Regions from separate parts of the Homo sapiens genome. Here region 2 is linked to region 1. Evidence: fine-mapped expression QTL. A gene starts in region 1. The other region holds a variant in brackets. All regions are shown on one strand. Distances are between the middles of the regions.

What was found. PIP is the estimated chance that this variant, and not a neighbour inherited with it, causes the effect. A credible set is the group of variants that fine-mapping cannot tell apart.
Region 2: its variant is the best candidate, but not a certain one, in a credible set for the expression of PRDX2 in monocytes (Fairfax 2014, PIP 0.89).

Annotation. Positions count from the first base shown.
Region 1 is chr19:12,795,426-12,806,310 of GRCh38, reverse strand. It overlaps PRDX2 (peroxiredoxin 2), which reads left to right and starts at 4,511. Exons shown (of 6, transcript NM_005809.6): 1 at 4,511-4,571; 2 at 5,041-5,152; 3 at 5,242-5,395; 4 at 6,012-6,134; 5 at 6,322-6,452; 6 at 9,145-9,488. The coding sequence starts at 5,050. The coding sequence ends at 9,230. THSD8 (thrombospondin type 1 domain containing 8) reads right to left here and starts at 4,242. Exons shown (of 2, transcript NM_001386800.1): 1 at 4,092-4,242; 2 at 1,922-2,207. The coding sequence starts at 4,239. The coding sequence ends at 2,008. RefSeq lists enhancers at 1-3, 4,348-4,906, 5,234-5,433, 9,683-10,092, cis regulatory regions at 1-480, 4,151-4,700 and silencers at 4,164-4,553, 4,563-4,748.
Region 2 is chr19:12,860,040-12,876,452 of GRCh38, reverse strand. It overlaps MAST1 (microtubule associated serine/threonine kinase 1), which reads right to left. Exons shown (of 26, transcript NM_014975.3): 13 at 11,506-11,644; 14 at 11,275-11,407; 15 at 10,972-11,137; 16 at 10,635-10,736; 17 at 10,351-10,473; 18 at 9,691-9,800; 19 at 8,801-8,979; 20 at 8,476-8,723; 21 at 7,604-7,810; 22 at 7,158-7,387; 23 at 5,507-5,629; 24 at 5,281-5,417; 25 at 2,942-3,129; 26 at 1,501-2,844. The coding sequence ends at 1,583. DNASE2 (deoxyribonuclease 2, lysosomal) reads left to right here. Exons shown (of 6, transcript NM_001375.3): 6 at 90-1,244. The coding sequence ends at 463. Among named protein-coding and RNA genes, the nearest start is that of DNASE2, 13 kb to the left of the region's middle. RefSeq lists enhancers at 8,584-8,878, 10,100-10,887, 10,888-11,676 and a cis regulatory region at 8,522-9,302. The variant G/TG (reference allele first, on the strand shown) is at 5,790.

The DNA of each region.
Region 1 (10,885 bases):
GAACTAGAGAGTCAAATATCACCCCACTCCCAGGACACGGGTCACCGCATCACTGGGTCCCCAACTGCCACTTGGATTCAGGCCCTGTACTTGCGGTCCCTGCTTCTGTACACATTCTAAGTCCCCTGGACCAGGTAGCCCCGCTTCCACTAAACCCAGGCTTTTGGATTTGGAGTCCCCAAACTCCCTCTCTTGGTTGCTCCCTTCGGCCCACCTCCACTCCGTGCAAGATCTGTGCTTCCTAACCTCTGTCTCATTCAGGCCAAGCCTTCCCCACCCCCGTTGGAGATCACAGACCTCGGTGGACTCCTGCTCAGGGTCTCTGCTCCCTATAGAAGCTCATTCCTCCCAACTTAGAATGAATGTCCCCACCCCCACCCCTCGACCCACTTTTTTTTTTTCTTTTTTTTTTTTTTGAGACAGAGTCTCGCTCTTGTCGCCCAGGCTGGAGTGCAATGGCGCCATCTCCGCTCACTGCAAGCTCCGCGTCCCGGGTTCACGCCATTCTCCTGCCTCAGTCTCCCGAATAGCTGGGACTACAGGCGCCCGCCACCACACCCGGCTAATTTTTTGTACTTTTTAGTAGAGATGGGGTTTCACCGTGTTAGCCAGGTTGGTCTCGATTTCCTGACCTTGTGATCCGCCCGCCTCGGCCTCCCAAAGTGTTGGGATTGCAGGCGTGAGCCACCGCACCCGGCCTTCTTTTTTTTTTAGACAGGGTCTCTCTCTGTTGTCCAGGCTGGAGTGCAGTGGCGCGATCTTGGCTCACTGCAACCTCCACCTCCTGGGCTGACGCGATCCTCCCACCTCAGTCTCCCAAGCAGCTGGACTACAGGTGCACACCACACCACCATGCCCGACTATTTTTGGTATTTTTTGTAGAGACGGGGTCTCATTATGTTGCCCAGGCTGGCTTCAAACTCCTGGGCTCAAGCGATCCGGTCGCCTCAGCCTCCCAAAGTGTTGGGATTACAAGCCTGAGCCAGCCACAGTGCCTGGCATCCACCACTTCTATTCCCTGGGCTCACTGGGGCTCATGTCCTCTGCCTGTGGGTTCCCGCCCCTTACCAGGCTCATGCCCCTTCCTCAGGGTCCTAGTTCATTGTCTCTTTATCTCCTTTTACTCCTCTTCGCCTCCCCCTCCACTTTTTTTTTTTTTTTTTTTTTTTTTTTTTTTTTGAGACAGGATGTTACTCTGTTGCCCAGGCTGGATAGCAGTGTAGCGATCTCGGCTTATTGTAACCTTTGCCTCCCAGGCTCAAGCGATCCTTCCTCCCCATCGTACCGAGTAGCTGGGACCACAGGCATGTGCCGCCACGCTCATCTAACTTAAATGTTTTTGTTTGTTTGTTTGTTTGGTTGGTTTTTTTTGAGACAGAGTCTCGCTCTGTCGCCCAGGCTGGAGTGCAGTGGCGCGATCTCGGCTCACTGCAGGCTCCGCCTCCCGGGTTCATGCCATTCTCCTGCCTCAGCCTCCCGAGTAGCTGGGACTACAGGCGCCCGCCACCGCGCCCAGCTAATTTTTTATATTTTTAGTAGAGACGGGGTTTCACCGTTTTAGCCAGGATGGTCTCGATCTCCTGACCTTGTGATCCGCCTGCCTTGGCCTCCCAAAGTGCTGGGATTGCGGGCGTGAGCCACCGCGCCCGGCCTAATTTTAAAAATTTTTATGGAGAGGTGATCTCAACGATATTGCCCAGACTAATCTTGAACTCCAGGACTCAAGAGATCCGCCTGCCTCGGCCTCCCAAAATGCTGGAATTACAGGCGTGAGCCCCGGCGCCCGGCGCCCCCTCCACTTTTCTCCTTTTCTCCCTAGATATCAGCGGGGCTCACGGCTCCTGACTCAGCTTCCCCCTAACCAAATCAGCCTCAAGTCACTCAAGACTTGGAGCCCCAGTTCTCCCTTCCTCAAACTCGCTTCATACCCGCCCCGCACCGCACATCCTCCCTCCGCGCCCACCCTGGGCCCCGCAACTTGCCCCGGCCCTGCTCTCTCACCCGGGCTCAGAGCCTCCAGTCGCAGTCGAAGGGCTTGCAGGATGGACAATCCCGTTGCCGGCAGGGCCGTAACTGGATCAGCTTCTCCGGGTCCATGAAAACCGGGCCCGGCGCTGTGCCCACTACCTCGCGGCTGCGCTCCTGCTTGCCCAGGTCGCAGAGACACCGCCACTTTCCCCACGGGCCAAGGATTGAGTCCTCGACTTCTAGAGAAGGAGGGCAGAGGTGAAGACCTACGTGGAGGGGGCCTACTCCCAATCCCCTCCCCCAGAGAGGGAGAAAGATAAAGATACTAACGAATAAGAGAAGCACATATTCGCTAGACTCTGCTTCTATGCCAGACACCCTGCCACAGATTATCTCATTTAAGCTTTTTTTTTTTTTTTTTTTTTTTTTTTGAGACAGGGTCTCGCTCTGTCGCCCAGGCTGGAGTGCAGTGGCGCAGTCACAGCTCACTGCAGCCTCAACCTCCTGGGCTCAAGCAATCCTCCTACCTCGGCCTACCAAGTAGCTGGGACTACAGGCACATGCCACTGTGCCTGGCTAATTTTTTGTATTTTTTGCAGAGACGGTGTTTCACCATGTTGCCCAGGCTGGTCTGGAACTCCTGGGCTCAAGTGATACTCCCATCTCAGCCTCCCAAAGTGCTGGGATTACAGGTGTGAGCCAGCCACCATGCCTGGCCTCATTTAATATTTCCACGAGTCTCAGGTGGGGAAACCAAGACCCAGAGACAGCAAGCCAACCTTCCAAGCTCATATACGGGGTAAGTGGGCCAGAGGAACTACAACCTGACACTTCCAGGCTGTGCCAGCCTGCCCAGTTGTGAGTGTCCTACAACATCCTTGGTGCCCGCCATTTGAAGCTGACTTCTGTCTTCAGGGGTGTGACCATGGCCCTACCTAGAAGGCACAATGCCACCTGACAGCAGGGTTGTCAAGTGATAAATGGCATAATTGACATAATGAAGGTAAGTAAATCTCCCGGTGCTGTGCTAGCATATACAAACCAATTTATTATGATCAGTTTGTTTATTTATTTAATTTATTTATTTTGAGACAAGATCTTGCTCTGTTACCCAGGTTGGAATGCAAGGGCATAATCATGGCTCACTGCAGCTTCAAACTCCTTGGCACAAATGGTCCTCCTGTATCAGCCTCTTGAGTAGCTGGGACTACAGGCGCATGCCACCATGGCAGGCTAATTTATTTTTTATTTTTATTTATTTATTTATTTTTGTAGAGTAGGGGGTCTCTCCATGTTGCCCAGGCTGGTCTTGAATTCCTGGGCTCAAGCAGTCCTCCCGCCTCGGCCTCCCAAAGTGCTGGGCCATCAAGTCAGGCTAATTTTAAAATATTTTTTGTAGAGATGGAGTCTTGCTGTGTGGGCCAGGCTGGTCTGGTCTCCGAGACCAAGGGATCCTCCCACCTCAGCCTCCCAAAGTGCTAGGATTATAGGCGTGAGCTACCGCGCCGGCCACTGTGATCACTTTAAAGGGCTCTTTACTGAATCTGCCCCTTTCCCCTATGAGACAGATCTTATCCCAACTCCGATCTTATCCCAACTCACCGCTCACCAAGGTCTGACACCTCCTACCCTCCCACACCCATGTCTCTGCCACACCTCACCGACCTCTTTCCATTTCTCCTTCAGGACTTTTCACCTTGGCATTTGCTATTCCCTCTTCCTTGGACATTCTTTCCCCAAATCTTTCCATATGGGACTTTCGCTTGTCGTTCTCGCTGCACTGGTCACGGGTCTTCTGCAATCGGACCCTCTCTGATTTCCCAAGCTTGCCCGCCCCCTTCTTTCTCTGTCTCTGCCCTTCCTGGCACCTATCCCCGAGTGACAGCTTCAGTGTCCTGCCCACACCCTCTCTTCCCCTGGGAGCTGCTTTAAAGCAGTATCTATTTCAATATATCCAAGAGTAAACCGAGCCTTAGAGAAAAGTAACCAGCCCAAGGGGACGCCTCCAGTGCGGAGCTGGGTGGAGATTTGCAGCCCGCCGAGGAAGGTCCCTTTGCAGCCAGCAGGAGAAGTAGGGCAACGGGGAGCCTTTGGGCATCGTCATCCCCGCCGCCTGAGGTTACCCTTTAGATGCTGCAGCCTCAGCTGCTCCCAGCTGTCACCTTCGCCCTGCTGCCCTAAGTACTGATAGTCCTGGTAGACCAGGGCAGGGGTCGCCAGCTGCAGGAGTAGCAGAGGCGCCAGCAGCAGCGCCCCCGGGGTCCGCGCCATGCTGGACTCCAACGGCCCCCAACGCGCTCCCAGGCGGAGTCGTGCGCGGAGTCTGCGGCGGGCGCATTACCCACGCGGGCAGGTGCAGTGGTCCCGGCCGAAGGCAACGCGTCTCCCCCCGCCGCCCGCAGGCGCATGGACCCGGCCGCACGCTCCCCCGCACCTGCGGGCGCAGTGGACCCGACCGCTCCGCTCGTCCGCTCCCTCCCCCGCGCCGTGCACGTCTTGGTTCGGGCCGGGCATAAAAGGCTTCGCGGCCCAGGGCTCACTTGGCGCTGAGAACGCGGGTCCACGCGTGTGATCGTCCGTGCGTCTAGCCTTTGCCCACGCAGGTATGAACACCCGGAGTGCACCTGGCGGGAGGACCCCCTTCAGGCTGCTTTGGCCCGATCCTGACTTTAGTGCTGGCCGCCTTTGCTTTCCATCCGCTATAGTGGCCTCCTTTGTCCTTGCGGGGGAAACCGAGGCCACAGCCTTGCAGCGCAGGCCTGATCGCCCGACTTCCCGCCCCCTGCTCGTGCGGGCCTCACTGTCTCCTTCTGGGCTGGGGGCTTGCGACACCGCCCTCCGGCCGACTCGCTCGTGGGGTGCTGGTGGCAGTGGCTGGGTCACTCGTGCTCTGGTCAGGAGAGCGGGTCTCCGGCAGCCTCCGGGCCTCGTAGACCGGGTACCCGGGAGGGTGAGGGTTAGTGCTGTCGCCTCCGCCGTGCTGACTCAGTCATAGGGCCCAGCACGCAGCGCGACCTTGGGTTGGGAGGACAAAGTGTCTTCCCGGGCGCACTGACCGGGCGGGGGTCTCAGCTTTCAGTCATGGCCTCCGGTAACGCGCGCATCGGAAAGCCAGCCCCTGACTTCAAGGCCACAGCGGTGGTTGATGGCGCCTTCAAAGAGGTGAAGCTGTCGGACTACAAAGGTGAGCGCCGCCCGGAGGGGGCCCAGGTAGAAGCGGGGCCGTGCATGAGAGAAGCTGGGCCCTAACTCCTCTGTGTCCCTCCTCCCCAGGGAAGTACGTGGTCCTCTTTTTCTACCCTCTGGACTTCACTTTTGTGTGCCCCACCGAGATCATCGCGTTCAGCAACCGTGCAGAGGACTTCCGCAAGCTGGGCTGTGAAGTGCTGGGCGTCTCGGTGGACTCTCAGTTCACCCACCTGGCTTGGTATGAGCAGGGGCCAAAGAGGGAGGTTGCAGCTAAGCTCACACCCTCAGGTCCTAGCAGTGTGGCTTCGTGGCCATTGCTCAACCTCTGGAACCTGCGTTTCCCCATCGTGAAAATAATGGAAACATTGCCGCCCAAGTCTTTAAGGATGATGACAGTAATTAGCATTTGACAACTAGTTGCCTGGTATATAGAGTTGCAGATGCAACTCAGATGCAACTCTATCTACTCTATGTACTTAGTTCCCAGGAGGGAGGCTGTGCTGCCCTATTTCATGAAGATGGAAACTCCAGTTCACCGAAGTGAAGGGCTGTACCCCATGACACAGCTAGAGGAGGATGGGGACTCTTAACACAGGCTCTCTGCTGGGTGATGCTGCAAGTTACAAGTACATGTGAAGCCACTTAGCTGGAGCTGTGCCTCTCAAACTCAGTCTTCCCAGCCATGGGGATACAGTCCTTGCACCCAACCCAGGGTGGGGTGGGTGAGGCTCCCAGCGGCCTACTCTAAAGCCCCTTATCTCCGGCCTCCAGTGCTTATCACATTGGGCCCACAGGGTGAGGACCCTGCTGTGCCAGGCATCCTGAGGCCCCAACTCTGTCTCCCCTACTCCCAGGATCAACACCCCCCGGAAAGAGGGAGGCTTGGGCCCCCTGAACATCCCCCTGCTTGCTGACGTGACCAGACGCTTGTCTGAGGATTACGGCGTGCTGAAAACAGATGAGGGCATTGCCTACAGGTACTGTGGGACCCTCAGCCCGGCTCAGGGAGCGCCCTGCCCCCCATTCCTGTGATGCTGGGACCACTCCTGTACAATGTCTTCTCTGCCCCCAGCCCTGTGGCTAGCAGCGGGTGGTTGGTAGTCCCTTCCTTGTCTCTGGCAGTGGGAGCTATCAGCTCCTCACTGGGAACCCTGATGTCTTCAGGGGCCTCTTTATCATCGATGGCAAGGGTGTCCTTCGCCAGATCACTGTTAATGATTTGCCTGTGGGACGCTCCGTGGATGAGGCTCTGCGGCTGGTCCAGGCCTTCCAGTACACAGACGAGCATGGGGAAGGTGAGCAGATACACACATGACACATGGGTACATACTGAGCGCCTCCGTCACTCATGCAAACATTCACTGCCTGTCCTCTTACCTGTCCAGATGGGTGTTAGGGCCCCAAAGAAGATTCAGCTCAGGGCTTTGTCTGCAGGATGTTTCTAATGTGGTAGGAGACAAATAACGCCTGACATTCAACCAAGGTGGACAAAGGGGCCGGGCTCAGTGGCTCACGGTTGTATTGCCAGCACTTTGGGAAGCTGTGGCAGGTGGATCACCTGAGGTCAGGAGTTCGAGACCAGCCTGACCAACATGGTGAAACCCCGTCTCTACGAAGAACACAAAAAATTAGCTGGCCGTGGTGGTGCACACTTGTAATCCCAGCTACTTGAGAGACTGAGGCAGGAGTTCGCTTGAACCCAGGAGGCAGAGGTTGCAGTGAGCTGAGATCGCACCGTTGTACTCCAGCTTGGGCAACAGAGCAAAACTCAGTCTCAAAAAAAAAAAAAATTAGCTTGGTTTGTGAAGCATGCCTATAGTCCCAGCTACTCAAGAGGCTGAGGCTGGAGGATCACTTGAGCCTGGGAGGTCAAGGCTGCAGTAAGCTGTGATCGCACCACTGCACTCCAGCCTGGGTGACACAGCAAGACCCTGTCTCAAAAAAACAAACAAACAGGCCGAGCGCGGTGGCTCACGCCTGTAATCCCAGCACTTTGGGAGGCCGAGGCGGGCAGATCATGAGGTCAGGAGTTTGAGACCAGCCTGGCCAACATAGTGAAACCGCGTCTCTGCTAAAAATACAAAAAAATTAGCTGGGTGCGGTGGCAGGTGCCTGTAATCCCAGCTACTTGGGAGGCTGAGGCAGGAGACTCCCTTGAACCCGGGAGGAGGTTGCAGTAAGCCGAGATCACACCACTGCACTCCAGCCTGGGCGCCAGTGTGAGACTCCATCTCAAAAACAACAACAACAAAAAAACCTGTAGGGGTGGGGCAGAGGGACAAAGATGGGACTAAAGGAGCCAAAAAGACAGGAAGATGCTGTGTCTCATGCCTGTAGATGCTGTGTCTCATGCCTGTAGTTCCACCTACTCTGGAGAGTGAGGCAGAAGATTGCTTAGGCCCAGGAATTTGAGTCGAGCCTAGGCAACATAGCAATACCCCATCTCTTTTTTTTTTTTTTTAAGAGATGGGGTATTGGTTAAAAAAAAAAAAAAAAAAAAAGAGGCCAGATGCAGTGGCTCACACCTGTAATCCCAGCATTTTGGGAGGCCTAGGTGGGTGGATCACCTGAGGTCGGGAGTTCGAGACAAGCTTGACCGACATGGAGAAACCCAGTCTCTACTAAAAATACAAAATTAGCCCAGCCTGGTGGTGCATGCCTGTAATCCCAGCTACTTGGGAGGCTGAGGCAAGAGAATCGTTTGAAGCTGAGAGGCGGAGGTTGCAGTGAGCTGAGATCGTGCCATTGCACTCCAGCCTGGGCAACGAGTGAAGCGAAACTCCGTCTCAAAAAATAAAAAAAAAAAAGAGGCCGGGCACGGTGGCTCATGCCTGTAATCCCACCACTTTGGGAGGCTGAGGCGGGCGGATCAAGAGGTCAGGAGATCGAGACCATCCTAGCTAACGCGGTGAAACCCTGTCTCTACTAAAAATACAAAAAAATTAGTCGGGCGTGGTGGCGGGCGCCTGTAGTCCCAGCTACTCTGGCGGCTGAGGTAGGAGAATGGCGTGAACCTGGGAGGCGGAGCTTGCAGTGAGCAGAGATCGTGCCACTGCACTCCAGCCTGGGCAACAGAGCAAGACTCCATCTTAAAAAAAAAGAAAAGAAAAAAAGAAGAAAAAGGAGAGCTGGGTGGCAAAAAGAAATTGAAGAATTAAGAGTAGGAAAAACACCAGCTAGAAAATACTGAACTTGGCCAGGTGTAGTGGCTCACGCCTGTAATCCTAGCATTTTGGGAGGCCAAGGTGGGTGGATCACCTGAAGTCAGGAGTTCGAGATCAGCCTGACCAATATGGTGAAACCCTGTCTCTGCTAAAAGTACCAAAAAATTAGCAGGGTGTGGTGGCGGGCACTTGTAGTCCCAGCTACTCAGGAGGCTAAGGCAGGAGAATCACTTGAACGCGGGAGGCAGAGGTTGCAATGAGCCGAGATCACGCCATTGCACTCCAGCCTGGGCAACAGAGGAGGACTCTGTCTCAAAAAAAAAAAAAAAAAAAGAAAGAAAGAAAAAAGAAGAAAAGAAAAAGAGAAAATACTGAACTTGGCTAGGCATGGTGGCTCACACCTGTAATCCCAGCACTTTGGGAGGCCAAGACGGGCAGATGACTTGAGGTCAGGAGTTCGAGACAAGCGTGACTAACATGGTCTCTACCAAAAATACAAAAATTAGCCAGGCGTGGTGGTGCACCTCTGTAATTCCAGCTAGGGAGTCTGGGGCATGAGAATCGCTTGAACCCAGGAGGGAGAGGTTGCATGAGCTCAGATCATGCTACTGTACTTCAGCCTGGGCAACAGAGCAAGACTCTGTCTGAAAAAAAAAAAAAAGAAAAAATACTGAACTGGGCTTGGAGGGTTTATCTTAATATCCACATTCCTGGGCCTGGACCACTTGCTTCCAGCATTTTCTTCTGCAACACAGGCCCTTGCTTTGCTTCACCTTGAACCTGGGGCTGTAGCCTTCATGTGCATCCTTGTGTCTTCCCACAGTTTGTCCCGCTGGCTGGAAGCCTGGCAGTGACACGATTAAGCCCAACGTGGATGACAGCAAGGAATATTTCTCCAAACACAATTAGGCTGGCTAACGGATAGTGAGCTTGTGCCCCTGCCTAGGTGCCTGTGCTGGGTGTCCACCTGTGCCCCCACCTGGGTGCCCTATGCTGACCCAGGAAAGGCCAGACCTGCCCCTCCAAACTCCACAGTATGGGACCCTGGAGGGCTAGGCCAAGGCCTTCTCATGCCTCCACCTAGAAGCTGAATAGTGACGCCCTCCCCCAAGCCCACCCAGCCGCACACAGGCCTAGAGGTAACCAATAAAGTATTAGGGAAAGGTGTGAGTCTGTGTTGGTGTGCTCTGTCCTTTCGTCCTCCCCTGCAACCCCCTTCCTTCTTCAGGCTCAGGCTTGGGAAACTGACCCTGTGGTTGCTCATCTTCGCCACACGGTGGCGGTCTTATCACATGCTTAGTGCCTGCTCTTTTCCTGCTTGCGCTCAAGGCGGTTTCGGAGGGGTAGGGTATGCCGTTTGTCCCTTGCAAATCCCAGGATGCCCTACATCCAGAAATCTGGCCATGCAAGGCAAAGCCCACATTTTGTCACCAGCCAGCCTGGGTTCAAATGCCGTTTAAGAGCTGTGATCGTCTCTGGGTCTCTTCAGCAGTAAAATGGGACTGCAAACCCAGATCACCATGCACGTGGTAAAATTTGTAGGAGATAAGTTATGTGAAGCTCGGGGCTGAGGCCCCTGTGTAGGGCCCAGTTCCTAGTTCCTAAGACGGCTTCCTCGAGCTGAAAGGAACCCAGCCCAGTGTAGTCTTATGGGGAAGAGGGTGGGGACCCAGTCTTAAGAGCAGAACCAAGAATGAGAGCCTGAGCTACGTGCAGAGTGCAGAGTCCCTGCTGTGAGCTCTGCCCCACCCCAGGCTGGAAAGGTTGCCTGTCTGCCCCTGGGGTGGGAGGGTGGCAGTTAGGCTAGAAGGCAGGTATTAGCAGCAAGGCAGGGTTCCCAGGGGTGCAGTTTAATATTGTGTGCGTTCAGGAAAGTAGTTTTGCTACTCTATGCCCCAATTTCCTCCTACAGAACAGGGCTAATATGCTCATTTAATCCACAGATCCACTATTAATGCTGGTACCCACCTAATACCCTCTAAGGGTCACTCATCTCCCTTGGAATTTAATCTACACTCCTCCCCAAGGCCCCTGCTCAGTCTCCCTTGACATCTGCCCTGTTGTGGTTCACTCCATTCCAGACAGGCTGGCTTCCTGCTGTTCTTTCACAGGCTCACCTGGCTACATGAATTTTGCCATTTAAGAGCTGCTCCCAAGGCCGGGCGCAGTGGCTCACGCCTGTAATCCCAGCACTTTGGGAGGCCGAGACGGGCGGATCACGAGGTCAGGACATCGAGACCATCCTGGCTAATACAGTGAAACCCCCTCTCTACTAAAAATACAAAAAATTAGCCAGGCATGTTGGCAGGTGCCTGTAGTCCCAGCTACTTGGGAGGCTGAGGCAGGAGAATGGCGTGAACCCGGGAGGCAGAGCTTGCAGTGAGCCGAGATCGTGCCACTGCACTCTAGCCTGGGCAACAGAGCGAGACTCCGTCTCAAAAAAAAAAAAAAAAAAAGCTGCTCCCAGTTGAGCGGGGTGGCTCAGGCCTGTAATCCCAGCACTTTGGGAGGCCCAGGCAGGCGGATCACCTGAGGTCAGGGGTTCGAGACCAGCCTGGCCAACA
Region 2 (16,413 bases), 67 kb before region 1:
TGGAAACTGAGCTGAGAGAGGGGAAGTGGACTAGGGACTCCCTCGCAGTGGCCCTGACCCTACCTGTGCCCTCTCTCCATCCTTTGCAGACCTGTACTCCGGCTGGTTGGCAGCAGCCCTTGGTACCAACCTGCAGGTCCAGTTCTGGCACAAAACTGTAGGCATCCTGCCCTCTAACTGCTCGGATATCTGGCAGGTTCTGAATGTGAACCAGATAGCTTTCCCTGGACCAGCCGGCCCAAGCTTCAACAGCACAGAGGACCACTCCAAATGGTGCGTGTCCCCAAAAGGGCCCTGGACCTGCGTGGGTGACATGAATCGGAACCAGGGAGAGGAGCAACGGGGTGGGGGCACACTGTGTGCCCAGCTGCCAGCCCTCTGGAAAGCCTTCCAGCCGCTGGTGAAGAACTACCAGCCCTGTAATGGCATGGCCAGGAAGCCCAGCAGAGCTTATAAGATCTAACCCTTATGGCCAGGTGCAGTGGCTCACGTATGTAATCCCAGCACTTTGGGAAGCCAAGGAGGGAGGATCACTTGAACTCAGGAATTCGAGACCAGCCTGGGCTACATAGTGAGACCACATCTCTACTAGAACTTAAAAAAAGTTAGCCAGGCACGGTGATAAATGCCTGTAGTCCCAGCCACTGAAGCCAGAGGATCGATTGAACCAGGGAGATCATGGTCACAGTGAACTATGATTACGCCAACCTGGGTCACATAGCAAGACTCTGTTTCAAAAAAAAAGGGGGGGCGGGGGACGGGTGGGTGCAGTGGCTCACATCTGTAACCCCAGCACTTTGGGAGGCTGAGATGGGCAGATCACTTGAGGTCAGGAGTTCGAGACCAGCCTGGCCAACATGGTGAAACCCCATATCCATTAAAAATATTTAAAAATTAGCCAGACATGGTGGCACGCGTCTGTGGTCCTAGCTCCTCGGGAGGCTGAGGCAGGAGAATCGCTTGAACTCGGGAGGCAGAGGTTGTCATGAGCTGAGCTAACACCACGGCACTTCAGCCTGGGTGACAGAATGAGACTCTGTGTCAAAAAAATAAAAAATAAAAAATCTAAGGGCTCAGGAACCAGTTTGGACTTGATTTTGAATCCCAGTTCATCCCCTTCCTAGCTGTATGACCTTGATTGTGTGCCTTAACCGCTCTGTGACACAGTCTACCTGTCTGCAAAATGGGAAACATAATACCTGCCATCAGGATTGTTGAGGAGTAAATAAATGGAAATTGGTGGACGAGGCTGTTAACCTTCTCTTCAGGTGGGCGCTGGGACACAAGAGCATCGCAGCTTCAATTCTCCCCCTAAAGGTTTGGGGGCAGTTGGTGCAGAGGTGAGACCAGAAGTGGGACCACAGGAGGTGTCTATCCAAAATTCCCTCCACTCTCCATGGTAACCAGAACTGGAGTCCCACCTCCCAAAAAGCACCTGGGCATGGGGGTGGGGTCGTGTGATGTCTCGCCTTGCCTGGAGAGGAGTGAGCCCCAGAAAACTCACGCAGCACGGACGCACTTTATTTATATGTGTACATATGTATACGGAGGCTGTACAGCGCGGGGCCGATGACCCCCTTGGCTATGGTCCCGGGGGTGCGGGACTGGACACTCCTTTTTTGGTCAGGCCTGCTGGGGGCACAGCTTCAGCAGGGCACCGGGAGGTCAGCCCCACTTGAGGCTTGGTGCCTGAGCCCAAGAGGGATGCGGGTGGGACTGGGGTCACTGCACTGCTGGGTGCACTGCACTTCGCTGGGGCTAGGGAGGGTGTCTGGGGCTCCGGGGAGAGCTTTGGGGAGGCGGGCTTGGAGCGAGGACCGCTCAGCGTGGTGCGCTCCTCCACCACCTCCAACACCCAGCGCTCCCGGCCCCGGGGGGCCTCGGGCACGGAAGGCGCCAGGGGTGCGGGTTCCTGCAACCCCTTGGAGTCCGCGCCCAGAGGCTGAGGCACCACAGCCTTAGCCCCGGGCCGCGCAGGCTCTACGACAATGGGTACCAGGGGTGTGCCCGCCTCGCCAGAGCTGCTGCGCCGGCCTGTCTCGTGTTCCTGCACCGGGCTCAGCGCCGCCTTGGCCACAGCCCTGGCCATCCCGCCAGTGCCATCCTCCGTCTGCACGCTCTGATGCCGCGTGCAGCCGACGTCCCGCTCCAGGGTCCGGCCACCGGGGGTCGTCGCGCGGGGTGGGGTGCACGCCTCGGCGCCCCCCGGGGATTCCTTCTCCTTGCTCGACACTGGTGGCCTGGAGGCACCCTCGGGCAGCAACGGGTCCGCGCCCAGGCTCAAAGGTGACTCCTGTCGGCCCAGGCGGCGGACGGCGACCTGCCGGGGCGCGCCAAGGCCCTCGACTGGGGGCGTCTCACCGTCGGACTCGGCAAGGCTATGCAGCGCCAGCTCGCCATGGAAGTCCTTGCGGAAATCCGGGTGGCCCACCTCGAGGCTGTGTTTGCGCAGCGCGCCCTTCTTGTCCGCACTCAAAGAGGCTCCCAGCTTCTCGGCCGACTGCACGCGCTTGAGGAGCGGCGAGCGAGGGGGCTCGGCACTCTTGGGGCGCGGGCGCACGACGGGAGGCGATGAGTGCAGTTTGGCCGGGAAGCTCTGAGTAGTGTGCGAGCTGCCCACCGTGTGGCCCGGCAGTGGCGGCGGTGACGCCTGCGTGGGGGACGGCGTGTGTGCCAGCGGCGATAGAGGGATGTTGCCGGCCGACTTGCATCGCGCAGAGCGGTACTGGCGATGGAGCTTTGGCGACAGTCCGTGCAGCGTGCTGGGCCGAATGTGGTGCGACGCCGACGACGCAGGCGAGTTGGGCGTGCTCGAGGCTGGGGAGCTGCTCTGGGATGAGGCGCCTGCGGGAGACAGGAGGTGAAGCGAGTGAGTACAGCCCAAGCACCAGCCAGGCCACCCCGCGCTGCTCGGTCCCCGCGCAGGTGCAGGAGGTAATACCTAGGTAGGCGGAGTCAGGCGTGGAGCGGTAGCTGTGCGTGGGCGAGCGCGCCGGCAGCCCGTGCGTAGGCGAGCCCGGGAGACTATCGCTGGATGACAGCGAGCGGTTCAGCGACGACAGCGAGCGGCTAGTATGCAGCAGGTTCGACTGCTTCGTGATCTTCCGGAAGAGGGAGCTGCGCTTCTTGCTGCGGGACAGGGAGGGGGCCAAGCGTCCTTGACCTGGACGCCAGAGCTCAGGGCTCCTCCCATTTCACGGCCTCACAACGGTAACCACCCACCCCTTCTGGCCCTTCCCTCTCCAGCTACAACCCACCTATCAAGATAAAGAACTTCCTTTAGCTCAGTGCTGCTTGGCTCCTCCCACTTCAGTCCCCACCCACCCCCTTTGGCCACTCCTAGTCCAAGCTAGAAACAAGCATCCAAACAAAACCAACCTGTTCTGCCCCGCCCACCTCTCTAGCTCCTCCCTCTTCCACTACAATCCACCTATCAAGATAGAACTTCCTTTAGCTCCTCCTACTTCAGGCCCCGCCCAACTTTAGGCCACTCCCAATTCTGGCTACAAACACTCATCCAAACAAAACCATTTTTTTTTTTTTTTTTGAGACGAAGTTTCGCTCTTGTCGCCCAGGCTGGAGTGCAATGGCACGATCTCGGCTCACTGCAACCTCTACCTCCCGGGTTCAAGCGATTACCGTGCTTCAGCTTCGTGAGTAGCCTCCTGAGTAGGTGGGACTACAGGAGTGAGCCACCACTCCCAGCTAATTTTTGTATTTTTAGTAGAGATGGGGTTTCACCATGTTGGTCAGGCTGGTCTCAAACTCCTGACCTCAGGTGATCCACCCACCTCGGCCTCCCAAAGTGCTGGGATTACAGGTGTGAACCACCTCGCCCGGCCAAAAACAACCTCTTCTAGTCCTGCCCACCCCTCTAGTCCCTCCGTCTTTCACTACAACCCACCTATCAAGACAGAACTTCCCTTAACTCAGTGCTGCTTGGCTCCTCCCTCCTCCCACTTCAGGTCCTGCCCAACCTTTTGGCCACTCCCAGTCCAGGCTAGAAACACATCCAAACAAAACCAACTTGGTCCCACCTGCCTCTAGTCCCGCCTCTTCCACTACAACCCACCTATAAGAGTGGGAAGAAATGTACTTATCTCAACCCCGTCTGGCTCCTCTCACCCAAATCCCTGTACTTGTCTGGGCCAAACTCACTGATCAAAACAGAATACTAAAAACAAACAAACAAACAGAATACCCTTCTGGCCCCACCCACCTCCCACCTAGCTCCTCCTATCTATAAGGGAAAATAGGATTTCAGTTGGCTGAACCTTGCCTGGCATGCTCATTCCAGATAGACATTTCTTATTCTAGCCTTTCCCAGTTCTGTCTAAACACATCTAACAGGATAGGACCATCTCCTGGACCCCCTCCGTCTCTGGACATCTCCCTTTCCAGTTCACATCTCCTGGGCCTGCCTATATGTGCAAGACCCTCCTACAATGCTTTTCTCTGATCCTAGAAATTTGGCACAGCTTCCATTCTTGGCTCCTTCCACTTTTACAGCCCCTCTTTTTTTTTTTTTTTTTTTTTTTTGAAAGAGTCTAGCTCTGTTGTCACAGCTGGACTGCAGTGGTGAGATCATAGCTCACTGCAGCCTCGACCTCCCAGGCTCAAGCAATCCTCCCACTTCAGCCTCCGAGTAGCTGAGACCACAGGTGTGTGCCACCAAACCCAACTAGTTTTTTAAGTTTTTTGTAGAGATGGGGTCTCTCTATGTTGCCCCTAATCTTGACTCCTGGGCTCAAGTGATCCTTCTGCCTCAGCCTCCCAAAGTGCTGTGATTACAGGTGTGACTCATCCCAGCCCCTCTTTTTTTGTTTGTTTGTTTGTTTGTTTGTTTGAGATGGAGTCTCACTCTGTTGCCCAGGTTGGAGTGCAGTGGCACAATCTTGGCTCACTGCAACATCCACCTCCCGGGTTCAAGGGATTCTTCTGCCTCAGCTTCCTAAGTAGCTGGGACTGCAGGCGAGCGCCACCATGCCAGGCTAATTTTTGTATTTTTAGTAGAGATGGGGTTTCACCATATTGGCCAGGCTGGTCTCAAACTCCTGACCTCGTGATCTGCCCGCCTCGGCCTCCCAAAGTGCTGGGGTTACAGGCGTGAGCCACCGCGCCCAGCCCGCAGCCCCTCTTAATTGTCCTCTTCCCTTTGCTTGTTGGTCATTTGTTCCCGCCACCTTTCCCGTGCTCTTCCCTTCTCCATCCTCATCTGTGCCCCTCCCGCCTAAGTTCCACCCACTGCTCAAAGACCAGGCTGTTTACGGCTGTGCCCACCTCTCCTGGCCCTCCTTGGCGGAGGGTCGCTTGTTCCTCCGAGCCATTTTAGCCTTGTAGCTGCTGCGCCTTGCGGGACCAATGCGGATAGAGGTATTTTCGAAGGGCGTTGTGGTCACTGCTACCTTGTTGCCACTCTGGGGGAAGAATGCGGGAAAATGCTCTGCTAGGGGCTGCTCAGGCCTCCCCCACCCTCCGCCCAGGGTGCCTCCTTCCCTGCACTCACCTTAAGGATCAGCTCCACGACCTCAGGATGCACCATGCCATGCACAGGCTCCCCATTCACGTGGGTGATGAGGTCCCCAGCACAGAGTCCTGCCTCCTGGGCTGGGCCTCCTTCCTCCACATGCTGGGAAAAGAGCACCCCATAGGGACAGGGTTAGTGGGATTGGTAACAAGGAAAGCTCCTAAACTTATATGCAGGACACTTAGCTCTGCATGCATTAGAATCCTCATAACACCTTGTGAAATAGTTATTATTCCTCCCCCCACATTTTTTTTTTTTTTTT[G/TG]GACGGAGTCTCACTCTGTCACCCAGGCTGGAGTGCTGTGGCGCAATCCTGGCTCACTGCAACAACACCCGCCTCCCAGGTTCAAGCGATTCTCCTCCCTCAGCCTCCCAAGTAGCTGGGATTATAGGCATGCGCCACTACCTCCGGCTAATTTTTTTTTTTTTTTTTTTTGAGACGGAGTCTCTCGCTCTGTCACCCAGGCTGGAGTGCAGTGGCGCGATGTCGGCTCACTGCAAGCTCCGCCTCCCGGGTTCACGCGATTATCCTGTCTCAGCCTCCTGAGTAGCTGGGATTACAGGCATCTGCCACCACGCCTGGCTAATTTTTTTTGTATTTTTAGTAGAGATGGGGTTTCACCATGTTGGTCAGGCTGATCTCAAACTCCTAACCTCGTGATCCACCCACCTCGGCCTCCCAAAGTGCCGGGATTACAGGCGTGAGCCACCGCGCCTGGCCATTTTTTTTTTTTTTTTTTTTTTTTTTGAGATGGTGTCTTGCTCTGTCGCCCAGGCTAAAGTGCAGTGGCGCAATCTCGGCTCACTGCAAGCTCCGCCTCCCGGGTTCAAGCGATTCTCCTGCCTCAGCCTCCCAAGTAGCTGGGACTACAGGCGCCCACCACCATGCCCAGCTAATTTTTTGTATTTTTAGTAGAGAGGGGGTTTCACCATGTTAGCCAGGATGGTCTCGATCTCCTGACCTCATGATCCACCCTCCTCGGCCTCCCAAAGTGCCGGGATTACAGCCACCGCGCTCGGCCCAATTTTTGTATTTTTAATAGAGACAGGGTTTCACCATATTGGCCAGGCTAGTCTCAAACTCCTGACCTCCAGTGATCTGCCCACCTCAGCCTCCCAAAGTGCTGGGATTACAGGCCTGAGCCACTGCGCCTGGCCTATTCTCCCCATTTTGCAGATGAAGAAACAGTCTCGGCCAGGCACCGTGGCTCACGCCTGTAATCCCAGCAGTTTGAGAGGCCGAGGTGGGTGAATCACGAGGTCAAGAGATTGAGACCATCCTAGCCAACATGGTGAAACCCCGTCTCTACTAAAAATACAAAAATTAGCTGGGCGTGGTGGCGCGCGCCTGTCTGTAGTCCCAGCTACTCAGAAGGTTGAGGCAGGAGAATGGCTTGAACTCAGGAGGCAGAGGTTGCAGTGAGCCGAGATCCTGCCACTGCACTCCGGCCTGGCGACACAGTGAGTCTCCGCCTAAAATAAAAAAGTAAAAGAAAAAAGAAACAGGTTTAGAGAGGGAAGAGGCATAGAGGGTCACAGAGGTGTCTCACCCAGGCTAACTGGTTTGAGCTGGAGGGGCCTTTTCCCCACCACCCTCCACTCTGTGATGGAGACTCCACCCATGAGTACTCACCCAGACAATGTGGTGGACACTATAGACATCCGTGTCACCCATGTAGACACGGATGGCACGCAGTGTGAAGCCATACTTCTTGCCCGAGCGCTGGATGGTGATGGGGGAGCGGAGCCCACTGACAGCTGGTGAGTAGTCCCGGCTGGGTGAGGAGTCCCGTGAGGATGGGTTGGAGGACAGAGATCGTGGAGACATGGGACTAGCAAGGGGTGAACTTCCATGTGGGTCCACTACAGACACACAACCATGGTCAGAAATCAGAACCAAGAAGATAGACATCTCCCTGTATCTGCTCCTCCCTCCTCCCAAGGCAGTGGCAGAGCAGCCTCTCATTGGTCCAGCCTGGAGCCAATCACGGTGGACAGGGAAAATGCAGCATTTTCATTGGTCTGTCCTGCCTCAAATGGGGGGCAGCCCCTCCCCTGCCAGGTGGGGCCCAGCATTACCTGCAGGAATCATGACAGATAAGGCAGTGGCTGAGGCTGATTTGATGACTTTGCCCCCAGTTCGAGAAGGCCTCTTCTCTACTGCCACATCCCCTGACATCTGCTGGTGCCGCGCCCGGCGCAGAACCAAGTCATTGGTAGCCCTTGGGCCTGATGCATCCCCATCCTTCGAGGGTGGGCAGAGGTCACCTGGGCGTGGACGGTCAGCTGCAACAGAAAGCAAGTGTGTTAGGAATTAGTCCAAGGCCAGGGATTTCCCACATACTGTTTCCCTGCCTGGAATGCTCTTTCCACTTTTTACCCTTGATGGATGGTGAGTTTCATCTGAGCAGGTAACCTGCATGCCTCACTGCTCCTCATATAGAGACATAGTCTGTATCGGTCTGTATCACTGACTGACCATGGTATTGGGGTGTTTCTAATGTTAAGAATCCCAAATTGGGCTGGGTGTGGTGGCTCACGACTGTAACCCCAGCACTTTGGTAGGCCAAGGAAGGCAGATCACTTGAGGTCAGGAGTTCGAGACCAGCCTTGCCAACATGAAGAAACCCTGTCTCTACTAAAAATACAAAAATTAGCCGGGGGTAGTGGCGCGCGCCTGTAATCCCAGCTACTCGGGAGGCTGAGGTGCGAGAACCACTTGAACTTGGGAGGTGGAGGTTGCAGTGAGCCGAGATCACGCCACTGCACTCCATCCTGGGTGATGGAGTGAGACTCTGTCTCAAAAAAAAAAAAAAAAAAAAAAATCCCAAATTGCAATGTGAATAGGACCTGAGATCTTTCATAAACAGCACCAGGCTCGTGGGATGCTCACTATATGACCAGTAGGACATTGGGGAAGATTGGGGAAGGCAGCACGATAGGGCACTCACTGGCCTCGGAGTCCCCGGCGCTGGAGGTGCCTTCCCCTTGAGTCTCCTCTTTGGGGGCCCGTGCATCCAGGGATCCCGCGGGGTCGGAGCTGGGCCGGGGAGGCCTGCGCAGCCGGGCCTCATCCTCGTCCTCTTGGGGGGCGCTGAAGCGGCTGGGCTCCAGCAGCGCCGAGAAACGGCGGCGGGCGCCCAAAGGGGGACTGGCCTCTCCCTCCAGGAAACTGGCCTCGGACGCGGAGAATCGCTTGCTGCATGGAGGGGGCGTGGTTATGGAAGACACGCCCCCTTCGACCCCGCCCCCAAACTCCGCCATTCCCCTGCTCACATCTCCGGAGAGCCCCCTCTCCAGGTCTTCTCACGCAGGGTCAGGCCGCCCAGCCCCTCCCGCTTGCCGGCCACCTTCTCCTCGGGGCCCTTGGTGCTCGGCTCCCGCTTGCTGCTCCCTGCAGCTGCTACTGGGGTCTTGGGCTCGTGCTGCGACAGCTGCTCCATGCTGCTATACACCTGTAGGTGGTGGTGGGAGGCAAGTCCAGCCCGGGTTCCACTTTCACTCCGGAGCTAATCAGCTTCCTGGCAGTGGATCCCCCGCAAAACGCACTCCACCCTCCGAGGCCTGGCTCCGCCCAATTGTGCATGATCCCCCAACCTACAATTCTTCAGTTCAGGCCCCACACCACAAAGTTAGGCACTGCGTTTTATTCTAGGCTCTGCCCCGACGATGCCCTGACCAATCTGCTCTCTACACAGCCCCATCTTCCCAGCAACCCCCTTAATTTATGTCTCCTTAGCCCAGGCTAGGCCCTGCACGCCTCTACAAGTTGCTTCTCAAAGCAAGGCCTATGGCTTCTCTGCCCGTTATTAGAAAAAATAAAAATAAATAAATAAAAGCAAGACTTCGCTGGGCTTTACTCCGCCTTCGCTGCTGGCCTCATTCCCACGTCCTGACCCCGCCCCACCCACACCTAGCCCCGCCCCACCATGGCCTCAATCTGCACAACTGTCCTGATTCCTGTTAGATTCCACTCAGTGCCAAAGGCCCGTCCCATAGACTCCCGAACCTGCCTCTTGCGTGGCCTTACCACCTTCCAGACTCCCGCCCCATCAATAACTTCCCGCTCCTGAGACCTTGGGCACCAGGGAACCTGTTTCTCACTGTCTCTCCAAGCCCCATCCCTCCTGGGGTCTCGCCCTGTCCCACACCCAGACTTGGCCCACCTTGCTGAAGCGCGGAGAGCAGGAAGAGAACTGGCGGATTTCCACGGGCTCCTCCTCCGTCGTGTCATCCTCGTCATAGGAGTTCACGTGGTGATACCTGTCTGAGCGGGCTGGGGAGCGGGTATGGGCTGTGACTGAGGGTACGGGGTTCCTCCTCATATCACATCCCCACAGGAGCCCAGTCCTGGTTCAAGACGGGTTTACAAGTCTTCAGGTCAGGCCACGCCCCTGCCTCATTAGTGTATTTAATTTAGGCTCCGCTCCCAGGCAAGGTCCTTGCCCCATTCTCAGTGGCACCGTCTAGCCCCGCCTCCAAAGAGGCCACGCTCCACCTACAGTGCTCTGCACCCTGGCATCACCCCAGGCCATTCTGAGCGCTAGTACCTCTCTCTAGTTCAGTTCCAGGCCCACACTCACAACTCACCCAGGCCAGGCCCCACACCTAGCCCAATCTCAGGTTCTTACCTACATTTCAGCCTGAGCCCCGCCTGTATGTCAGCCCCGCCCCACTTGGCCCCGCCCCCACCAAAATACCACCTTCGCACCTAGGCATCACATCTTGGTACTTAGCCAGGCCCTATCCCAGGCTTTACTTACCCCAGGGTCCCTCTTCCCGGATCCCACCCCTCGACCCAGGTCGTGCCTGGTGTCCCAGCTCACTGTCAAAGTAGCTAGTGTCATCTTCCGACTCTAGGTGGGGGATGAACTCGGCCTTCTGCCTCAGCAGCCCTGTCCAGTCCAGGTCTCGAAAGAAACTGTGCTGCTTCACCTCAAAAGCGCCGCCTGGGACGGAAGGGATTCCAGCCACAGCTGATGGCCAACCCAGCAGCCCAGCCCCGCCCCCCATGTCTTCCGCCCCGGGGCCACAGCACAGGCTGGGCCTGGGGTTTTGGAGGCCTGCTCTCTATCAGTGGGCCCTCAGCTCCTCTGCATGGCGGACTTACCTGCCCCAAGCCTGACCAGAGGGTTGGTCTGCAGGAGGCTGGATATGAGGAGTTGGGCCTCCGTAGGTAGGGCCTCATCCCCCTCGGGCCACAGGATGTCATCTGCAAAACAAAACGGAACTTAGGGGCGGTTTTTGTTGTTGTTGTTGTTTGGACACAGGATCTCACTGTGTCACCCAGCTGGAGTGCAGTGGCACGATCATGGCTCACTGCAGCCTTGACCTCCTGAGTGCAAGCGATCCTCTGGGGGGTCGCTTTTGAAATCCCTGGAACCCTGAGCCTGTCCATCTCTCCGTGCACACCACACTCTGCCCCTGTACACTGCCAAGCCACGTACCACTGATGACCTGTCCAAATAGCTCCTCTGGTGTGTCTCCGAAGAAGGGCACACAGCCCACCAGGAACTCGTAGAGGATGATCCCCATAGCCCACCAGTCCACTGGCTTGCCGTAGCCTTGACGCAGGATGACCTCGGGCGCGATGTACTCTGGGGTCCCACACACCTGGGGGCAGGCTGTCAGCCCACGCCCCAGCCAGAGGAGGGCCCTCAAGGGAGAGCTGTGCCCCCCACCAGGCCCTGGGTTCCCGAGGTCCTGCAGGGTCACTCCACCCTCAGCGACCCCCATGCCCGCACACACACCTGTTTGTCCAGGAACTCTCGGGCGTCCTTCTCGATGTGGCCTTCATATAAGTTGGTGGTGAGGCTCATGAGCCCCATCTTGGAGAGGCCGAAATCTGTGAGCTTGATGTGACCCATGGAGGTGATAAGGAGGCTGTAGGCACAGGTGGGGATCTCAGGGATGAGGCCCGTCCATTCTGCCTCCTGGCCTCCCGAGGGACAGAGGGAGTGATGGGAAAGATCAAAGCTCACTTGTCAGGCTTGAGGTCGCGGTGCACGATGCCATAGTTGTGCAAATACTCCAGGGCTAGCACCGTCTCAGCAAAGTACATGCGGGCCATCTCTACGGGCAGCGCTCCAATATTCTTCAGCAGGGTGGCACAGTCGCCGCCTGCAGGCCAGGAAATGGGCCCGCATAAAAAGGGAGGCATTCCTCTCTCTGGACATGCACCATAGCACCAACTTCTCATGTTATGTTGTACCCGTTTTATAGATAAGGGAAACTGAGGCTCTGAGAGGGGCCTCCCTCCCTCCAGGTCCTCTACTGGGTTCTTCTTGTCCTCTTAGCCATCCTCCAAAGTTGGTGTCATCAGCTCATCTTATACACAAAGGGATGGAGACTCAAAGAAAGGATGGGTCATGCAGGCAGTTGTTGGTAGAGGTGAGGTTTAGTTGGGGAACAAAGGCTACCCACTTATCAACTGCATCTGGAAGCACAGCCCTCTATCTCCTGGTGTCTGAACCTTGGAGCTGGAAGCCTTAGATGCAGATTCTTGGTCTTCACTAGATTTTTTTTTTTTTTTTTTGAGACAGGGTCTTACTCCATTGCCCAGTCTAGAGTGCGGTGGCAAGATCACAGCTCACTGCATCCTCAACCTCCCAGCTCAAGCAATCCTCCTGCTTCAGCCTCCTGAGTAGCTGGGACTACAGATGTGAGCCACCATGCCCAGCTGATTTTTAAAAAATTGTTCAAGGCTGGGCATGGTAGCTCACGCCTGAAATCCCAGCACTTTGGGAAGCCAAGGCGGGTGGATCACTTGAGGTCAGGAGTTCGAGACCAGCCTGGTCAACATGGTGAAACCCCATCTCTGAAAAAAGAATACTAAAGTTAGCCTGGCTTGTTGGCAGACGGCTGTAATCCCAGCTACTCGGGAGGCTAAGGCAGAAGAATGGCTTGAACCTGGGAGGCAGAGGTTGCAGAGATCCAAGATCGCACCACTGCAGTCCAGCCTGGGTGACAGAGCAAGACTCCGTCTCAAAAAAAAAAAAAAAAAAGTTTTTTGTAGAAACGAGTTTCATTGTGTTGCCCAAGCTGGTCTCCAACTCTTGGGTTCAAAGGATCCTCCTGCCTCAGCTTCCCAAAGTGTTGGCCACTGCCTCTGCCCCTCTGCCAGATTTACTGTAATTGGCATTGGTATTTCAGTTTCTCAATATCTATTTCCTTTTTATCCTACAAAGGCTAGATTTCCTTCCATGTGCAGCAACCGGGGCAGTATGTAACCCAAGTTGCTCCAGTGAGTTAGCCCTTGGAATTTTCACTCTTTTCCTGTAAGAATTGCTAAGCTCATAGAATGTAAGCTGAGATCTGCTAGATGGCAACCTTGCTACATGAGGGCTTGTCTAGAAGGAAGCCCACATGTGGGAGTACAGAGCCAAGAGATGGAGAGTTTCCTGATGGAATGGTTTGAGCACCTACATCCAGCCATTCCTGAAGGTAATATTGGTTTTTCAATCACCAATGACCAAGAAAGCTAATGATTTCTTTCTTTTTTCTGTTCTCTTTTCTGCGAGATTTTGCTGGTTTCAGAAACTCTCTGAGGGTGGGGCCCAGGAATCTGCATTTGAGCACATCTATTGTGCACACAGACCCACCATAGAGATACTGATTTGGCCCCCTTCTCTCCTCCTCCTCTGCAATGAACCTGGACTAGAGCAGTCATCTACCTCCTAGTCTCCTGATTCTGCTCTCTCCACAAGAGCCAAATGGATTATCTTTTCTTAATTTTTTTCTTTTTCTCTTTTTTTTTTTTTTTTTTTTTTTGAGTCAGAGTCTGGCTCTGTCACCCAGGCTAGAGTGCAGTGGCTCCATCTCGGCTCACTGCAACCTCTGCCCACTCACCGCCCCCGGGTTCAAGAGATTCTTGTTCCTCAGCCTCCCGAGTAGCTGGGATGATAGGCGTGCACCGCCACTCCTGGCTAATTTTTGTAATTTTAGTAGAAACAGGGTTTCATTGGCCGGGCACAGTGGCTCACGCCTGTAATCCCAACACTTTGGGAAGCCGAGGCAGGCACATCACCTGAGGTTGGGAGTTCGAGACCAGCCTGGCTGACATGGAGAAACCCCATCTCTACTAAAAATACAAAAATAGCCAGGTGTGGTGGTGCATACCTATAATTCCAGCTACTCAAGAAGCTGAGGCAGGAGAATCGCTTGAACCCGGGAGGAGGAGGTTGCGGTGAGCCAAGATCACGTCATTGCACTCTAGCCTGGGCAACGAGTTTAGCCAGAGCGAAACTCTGTCTCAAAAAAAAAAAAAAAAAGGAAAAGAAAAAAACAACAACAACAGGGTTTCACCATGCTGGGTAGGTTGATCTTGGACTCTTGACCACAAGTGTTCTGCCTGCCTTGGTCTCCCACTGTAAGTGCTGGGATTACAGTCGTAAGCTACTATAATGGGCCTCCAAATGGATTTTCTTAAAACATAAATCTGATCATATCAAATCTTCTTAAAACCCTCCATTAGCTGGACATGGTGGTGCCTGCCTGTAGTTTCAGCTACTTTTGGAGGCTGAGGTGGGAGGATTGCTTGAGCCCAGGAGTTCAAGGCTGCAGTAAGCTGTGATCACACCACTGCACTCCAGCCTGGACAATGCACTAAAAATAAAACAAAACAAGGCTGGGCGCAGTGATTCACGCCTGTAATCCCCATACTTCGGGAGGCCGAGACTGATGGATCATTTAAGGCTAGGAATTCGAGACCAGCCTGGCCAACATGGTGAAAATCCGTCTCTACTAAAAGTACAAAAATTTGCCAGATGTGGTGGCACACGCCTGTAATCCTAGCTACTCGGGAGACTGAGGCAGGAGAATCACTTGAACCTTGGAGACGGAGGCTGCAGTAATCCGAGATCACCCCATTGCACTCTAGCCTGGGTGACAGCGTGAGTGAGACTCCATTTCAAAAAAAAAAAAAAAAAAAGGCAGGCACGGTGGCTCACTCCTGTAATCCCAGCACTTTGGGAGGCCGAGGCAGACAGATCATGAGGTGTGGAGTTTGAGACCAGCCTGACCAACATGATGAAACCCCATCTCTACTAAAAATACAGAAATTAGGTGGGCGTGGTGGCGGGCACCTGTAATCCCAGCTACTCAGGAGGTTGAGGCAGGAGAATCGCTTGAACCCGGGAGGCGGAGGTTGCAGTGAGCCGAGGATGCGCCACTGCACTCCAGCCTGGGCAACAGAACGAGACTCTATCTCAAAAAAGAAAGAAAGAAAGAAAGAAAGAAAGAAAGAAAGAGAGAAAAAGAAAAAGAAAAAAACAACAATGCTCCAGTGACCTTCTGTTGCATTCAGAATGAAATCCAATGCCATTCCAGTCTCTGGAATACCCTCCTCATCAGCGCCCCTTCATCCTCATCTCCCCTCCCTTGCTCACTTGCCTTCGGCTCCATGGGCCTGCTTGCCACTCCTCCAAATCTAAATTGTCACCTAAGAGACTTTGTACTAGCAGGTCACTTATTCCATCATAATCCAGGCCTCTGAGAAGCTCCCTGCCTGCCTCCCCATCACCTCCTCCAGCCTCATGGACCTCATGTCCTCACTATGAAATGCCCTGGCTGGGCATGGTGGCTCATGCCTGTAATCCCAGCACTTTGGGAGGCCAAGGTGGGCTGATCACCTGAGGTCAGGAGTTCAAGACCAGCCTGGCCAACCTGGTGAAACCCCTGTCTCTACTAAAAATACAAAAATCAGCTGGGCATGGTGGAGGCGCGCCTTTAGTCCCAGCTACTCAGGAGGCTGAGGCATGAGAATCCTTGAGCCTGGGAGATGGAGGTTGCTGTGCACCAAGATTGCGCCACGGCACTCCAGCCTGGGTGAAAGAGCGAGACTCCATAAATAAATAAATAAATAAATGTCCTTATCTCTTTGGCTTGCTCTGCTTGTTTATTGTCTGTCTATACAGACCAGAATGGAATCTCCATGGCGGGGAGATGTCTGTGCCTGGGTCTCCTCTGTGTCACTGGCACCTAGCACAGCATGTGACACGAGGGAGATGATGAGGAGGTGTTCGTTGAGTGACTGGATGGTTGACTGGAAGGCTTGGAGGAGGCACAGCTGAGGCCCCAGGGATCATGTATGTGTCATAATAGCCACAGCATGTGTGGTTTTGGACAATAGATGGATTAACATTTGGGTGAATACATGCACGGATGGATTAAAAACAATATATGGGCCGCAAGCTATGGCTCACGCCTGTAATCCCAGCACTTTGGGAGGCTGAGGTGGGAGGATCACCTGAGGTCAGGAGTTCGAGACCAGCCTGGCCAACATGGTGAAAACCCTATTTCTACTAAAAATACAAAAAATTAGCCAGGTGTGGTGGCACACACCTGTAATCCCAGCTACTCGGGAGGCTCAGGCAGGAGAATCACTTGAACCTGGAAGGTGGAGGTTACAGTGAGCCGAGATAGCGCCACTGCATTCGAGCCTGGTGACAGAGCAAGACTCTGTCTCAAAAAAAAAAAAAAAAAGAAAGAAAGAAAAAGGAAAAATAGGTGTATAAGCCGGGTGTGGTGGTTCACGCCTGTAATCACAGCACTTTGGGAGGCCGAGGTGGGCGGATCATGAGGTCAAGAGATCGAGACCATCCTGGCCAACACGGTGAAACCCCGTCTCTACTAAAAATACAAAAAAAATTAGTCGGGCATGGTGGCGGGCACCTGTAATCCCAGCTACTCAGGAGGCTGAGGCAGGAGAATGGTGTGAACCTAGGAGGTGGAGCTTGCAGTGAGCTGAGATTGCGCCACTGCACTCCAGCCTGGGAGACAGAGCAAGACGCCGTCCCCCCCAAAAAAAAGAAAAATAGGTGTATAATGGTAAACAGACATACGGATGGATAAACAGATGGACAACCACAAAGACAAATTGCGGGATGTGA